Regions from separate parts of the Homo sapiens genome. Here region 2 is linked to region 1. A link means that fine-mapping ties the variant in region 1 to the expression of a gene that starts in the linked region. Tissue or cell type: whole blood. Region 1 holds a variant in brackets; the other region holds the start of a gene. All regions are shown on one strand. Distances are between the middles of the regions.

Region 1 (2,683 bases):
TATCAAGTCCTTAAAAAACATATTCACAGGGAGATCAACTTATAGTCCTTTATATGAAATAGAAACACTCTCTTGCTTTCCTTTTGGTTAAGGTAGGAAGATAATAAATCACAGTGGCTTGGGTTTGAATACTGGTTTATTTGCTAGCTGTATGACCTTGCAAATGATTTAAACAATACTGCTGAGTCCTCATGTGTAAGTTGGAGAAAACAGTACATCCCAACAAAGTTGTTGGAGGATTATGCCTGAACATGTGAAAAACTACTAGTATTGTGCTTAACATATAGTAGTTGCTTAATAAATGATAGCCATATTCTCAGTGCACACTTAAGATCACACCCTAATTGGACCAGTAATCACATTTCATCTATTTAGTTGGAAAAGTAGTAAACTGTGTCTTTATGCCATTTTGTGTGTGTGGGTGTGTGTTTTGGTAGAGAACGGGGTTTTGCCTTGTTGCCCAGGCTGGTCTCGAACTCCTGAGCTCAAGTGATCTGCCCCTTGGCCTCCCAAATGCTGGGATTACAGGCGTAGGCTGCCGCACCCAGCTAATAATATGCTATTTCAAGTGCATTTAGAGAAGAGTGTTGATGAACCATGGAATGATTATTCTTTTTTTCTTTCCTCTTTTGTTTTTAAATCACAGGGCACCTCGATTTAAAGATTTCCAGCAACAGGACAGTCAGGAGCTTCTTCATTATCTTCTGGATGCAGTGAGGACAGAAGAAACAAAGGTCAGGTTTCTTTATGTATATCATGTATTCTCTTCAAGAAGAGGATACAAAACTAAGGGATTATTGGGGGGCCAAGGCGGGGTGGATCATCTGAGGTCAGGAGTTTCAGACCAGCCTAGCCAACATAGTGAAACCTCGTCTCTAATAAAAATTAGCCGCGCATGGTGGTGCATACCTGTAATTCCAGCTACTTGGCAGGCTGAGACATGAGAATTGCTTGAACCCAGGAAGCAGAGGTTGCAGTGAGCGGAGATCCCGCTACTGCACTACTCCAGCCTGGGTGACAGAGTGAGACTCTGTCTCAAAAAACAAACAAACAAAAAAACAACTAAGTAAGTAATTTCTATTACAATTTAAAAGTACAGTTGAGAAATAATTTAATTTTTTAGAGTAAATATTCTAGATATTTTTTCTTTCTTCTGTAAGATATTTACCTTTATCCTTTTACAGCCCTATTGTCCTTTTTAGTTAATGTCCTTTGGCTGTAAATAAAATAATTTAAACTAGCTTAAGTAAAAAGGAATTGGGGCCAGGCATGGTGGCTCATGCCTGTAATCCCAACACTTTGGAAGGCTGAGGCAGGTGGATCACCTGAGGTCAGGAGTTCAAGATCAGCCTGGGAAACATGCTGAAACCCTGTCTCTACTAAAAATACAAAAATTAGCCAGGTGTGGTAGCGTGTGCCTGTAATCCTAGCTACTTGGGAGGCTGAGGCAGGAGAATACTTGAACCCCAAGGGTGGAGGTTGCAGTGAGCCGAGATCGTGCCACTGCACTCCAGCCTGGGTGACGGAGTGAAACGCTGTAAAAAAAAAAAAAAAAAAA[AG/G]GAATCTTAAGATGCAGGGAGATATTATTCCTGGGCGATAGGGGGATATAGGAACAGGAAAGCTGTCAGGAATCCAGAAAGCATTCTTCTTATTATCCTAGTTTCTCTGGCTCTGTAAATTTTCTTCATTTTTCTCCATGCAGACCAAGCAGTATTTGTATGTCATAGTTCCATGTATGTAAAAACTATACTGGCTATTCATGATTCTCAATTTTTAAATTCCCAGTAGACAGAAACTTCATTATTCCATGTTGGATTAAATTCCACTCATGGATCAGTTGTTTGTGGCTAGGAGAGAGGAGTCCCAGCCTCTTAGATGAGAGAGCATTTCTCAGAAAAGGAATAGCCTGTGGACTGGATAGATTCCCCAGTGTTGATTGTAGGCCTATCCCCTAACTGATAGGCTCTTTATTGACTTTAACGTTAAATTAGTTAAATTCAACTTCTTCTGGGAGGGGTTTCCTGTGCACATAGGATCAGTTTATCAGAGAAAATGCAAGATATTAAGGATATCAGATACACAGCACACATTCTCCATTTTCCTCCCTCTTACTCATAGAAGACATTGCTGATCGTTCCTAACAGTCCAGGTGAGTTTGGGTTCAGCCTCAGAATTATTTTCTGAGCACACCATTGTGGGCAGCCCTTGTCAGTCATAATTGGAGTAATAGGTGAAAACCTGTTTTCCATTCAAGGCAAATATACTTCTTAATCTATATGGTAATATGTAATAAAAGCAGCCAAGTGTTCAGTGAAGTGCATATGTGCTTGTGATAAGTAGTGCTAGGCAAGATGGACCTTCCTTTTTTAAAAAAAATTCTGCCAGATATGGTGGCTCATGCCTGTAATCCCAGCACTCTGGGAGGCCAAGGTGGGCGGATCACTTGAGCTCAGGAATTTCAGACCAGCCTGGCCAATATAGTGAAACCATGTGTCTACTAAAAACACAAAAATTAGCCAGGCGTGGTGGTGCACACCTGTAATCCCAGCTTCTTGGGTGGCTGAGGCATGAGAATTGCTTGAACCCGAGAGGCGGAGGTTGCAGTGAGCTGTGATCGCACCACTGCACTCCAGCCTGGGCAACAGAGCAGAGCCTACCTCAAAAAACAACAAAAATCCTGTTT
Region 2 (2,683 bases), 40 kb before region 1:
TATTTTCTTTTTCCCTAGGGAAAAAAATTATCCTAACCCCAAAATGATAGTGTACCTCTATACCTGTAACAGCAACTGGCATATCTGTGCTCAATTATGTTTGTTAAATGAATGGTCCTTGTTAAGTACGATATAAGCAAATATCAACCTTCTTTGCCAAGTTCTCCACATGTAAATACTGTTAGAAGAGTTTTTAAAGAAAAATTTAGTGTTTGCAATTTTAACTCTCGTATCTTCTGATTTCTACGCCAATGCTCTTATCCTTAAAGCCACATTTGTCCCTTGGCTGAAGAGTTGTGAAAGATCAGGAGACTTTTAGAACCTATCCATAACCAGTGTTGGCATTTGCAATATCCATGATTGAAACAAAATATTTTCAAACCAACTACTTTTACTAAACATGCAATGTGCTGGCCACTTCAACAGATAACCGGGCTTTGAGGAGGTATAGGTGTATTTCAAGAAATGTACTATCTAGCTAGGAAGAGAGAAGGATAGGTAAGACAACAGCAATGGGGGAAAAACCACAATAATATATGACGAATGTTAGATGTGACTTTAAGAGTTCAGGGGGCGGCGGGGGTGTGGGGGCGGAGCCGGGCGCGGTGGCTCAAGCCTGTGATCCCAGCACTTTGGGAGGCCGGGGCGGGCGGATCACAAGGTCAGGAGATCGAGACCATCCTGGCTAACACGGTGAAACCCCGTCTCTACTAAACAAAATACAAAAAATTAGCCGGGCGTGATGGCGGGCGCCTGTAGTCCCAGCTACTCGGGAGGCTAAGGCAGTAGAATGGCGTGAACCCGGTAGGCGGAGGTTGCAGTGAGCCGAGATCTTGCCATTGCACTGCAGCCTGGGCGACAGAGCGAGACTCCGTCTCAAAAAAAAAAAAAAAAAAAAAAGAGTTCAGAGGAGGGTAACGGAGGGAAATCGGAGGCTGTTTCAGAAGGTGCCCAGCAACAAGTGGGACTTAAGCCGGACTCCTGCAACATCCGAGGTGCGCACGCTGGCCCAGGATCCTAACAAATTGCTAGTCGGTGGCTATGAGTCTTAGATTATCAGGGACTCTCCGGGCTCTGCGGACACGCAGAACGCAGGCGCCACGCAAGCCGGCCCCGCCCTTTCACCCCTCCCCGCGCTCCCGGGCCCCGGGCGCGCCGCCTGGAACCCTCCCGGTCCTGGCTGGGGGCGGGCGAACGAGGCCCCACCTCTGCCGGGAGCGGGACGAGCGCGCAGGCGCAGTCTCCCCAGGTTGTAGACGCTGCGGCCCGGCCCGGCGGGGTGAGTTGAGAACGCGGCGCTTTGGTCGCAGCGGCGGTATGGTCGCCGCAGTTTCTCGGTCTTCGCTTCGGCGACCTTGACCCCCTTGTGGGTGGGCGAGGCTGGAAGAGAGGCTCCCCACCCCACTCGGCTTCCTGATCCCTGGGGGCGCCGGGCGGTCACCGAGGGCCGTGTGAGCGCCGCTCTGCCGGCTCCGGGTCCATGCGGCTGCGGGAGAAGCCCTGGGCGTCGGGGCTGGCCTGGGAGGGGCCCGAGTCCCCTGGTGACCTGGGCGCGCGGCGGCCCCACACCTTTCCGTCCGCCTCATCGCGGCGCATTTCTCTTCACATCCTCGGGGTGTGTGTGTGTTGGTGACCGGAGGAAGCCTGTCTAATGACTTTTCTGGAAGCGTCGTGTATTAGGAGCTCCGGGGCCGGACTGCTTGGGTCCGCATCTCCATCCACCGCTTACTGGCTTTGGGACCTCTGCAAGTCACTTCACTTCTCTTTCTCAGTTTCAAGTGTAAAATGCGGAAAATAATAGCAACTTATCTCCTAAGGTGGTTGTGAGGGTTGCGTGGGTTAATATTTGTGAAGTGCTTAGAACTGAGCGTGATACACAGCAAAACCATAAGTGCTGCTCATCTTTTTGAGCTTGGTATATAAAAGGAGATAGTGACCTTTTCTTCTCTTTCCAACCCCCATAAATAATTGCCCAAGAGTAGGAAAAAAGGATTTTTTTTTCTTAAGGATATGGGCTTTTTGCATAGCCTGTTTAAAAACAAAGCTTTCTAAACAACTTAGTTGCACATCCTACTTTAGAGAAAAGACAAGTGTTAAGTGATGGTGACTTGAAAACTGTAAAGTTTATTGTTTGGAAAACCGCATGAGAAAAATGGCCAGAACATATTTGTGCTAAAAAGAGTTAACATAGCAGGCCTTAAGACTGCTATCCTTAGAAAGGACTGCTTGCAATGTTGGTGCTTGTTTGGCATCTGGGAACTTAGATTTTTGGGTTTGTGCTGAACAGTATGTTTTATGCCGAAATTACCAGCTTCTGTAAAAATCCGGGACACCAAGTCTTTAATGGGCTTCCCTGCGCGGAAACTGCTGCATTTTCACTGATGGAGGAAGGATGTGTTTTGTTTGACCCCTCTTGGGAGGGAGACCGCATAAGGAGCCTACACGTGATTCCTCCAGACTCCGCTTGTGTCTTTTTCTATTATGATGAGCCTTTATATCCATACTGCATTGTGTAATAAATGTCAGCCATGAATTCAACTATATGTTGAGTCCCGTGCATCCTATCAAAGCTCTAAATGTGGGGGAGATCACGGAGATCCTCAGCCACAGTTTTGTAAATTTGTATAAAGGTAAGGGATATAAGTGCCGTTTTTTTACGAGGATATATTTCCTAGTGGTACTG

What was found. PIP is the estimated chance that this variant, and not a neighbour inherited with it, causes the effect.
Region 2: it holds the start of USP45, and the variant in region 1 is fine-mapped to the expression of USP45 in whole blood (INTERVAL, PIP above 0.99). The same link has a PIP of 0.9 or more in activated CD8 T cells.

Annotation. Positions count from the first base shown.
Region 1 is chr6:99,474,194-99,476,876 of GRCh38, reverse strand. It overlaps USP45 (ubiquitin specific peptidase 45), which reads left to right. Exons shown (of 18, transcript NM_001346022.3): 9 at 647-734. Among named protein-coding and RNA genes, the nearest start is that of USP45, 40 kb to the left of the region's middle. The variant AG/G (reference allele first, on the strand shown) is at 1,559.
Region 2 is chr6:99,513,988-99,516,670 of GRCh38, reverse strand. USP45 (ubiquitin specific peptidase 45) reads left to right here and starts at 1,248. Exons shown (of 18, transcript NM_001346022.3): 1 at 1,248-1,279. RefSeq lists silencers at 461-680, 991-1,360, 1,411-1,510 and enhancers at 427-1,332, 1,333-2,240.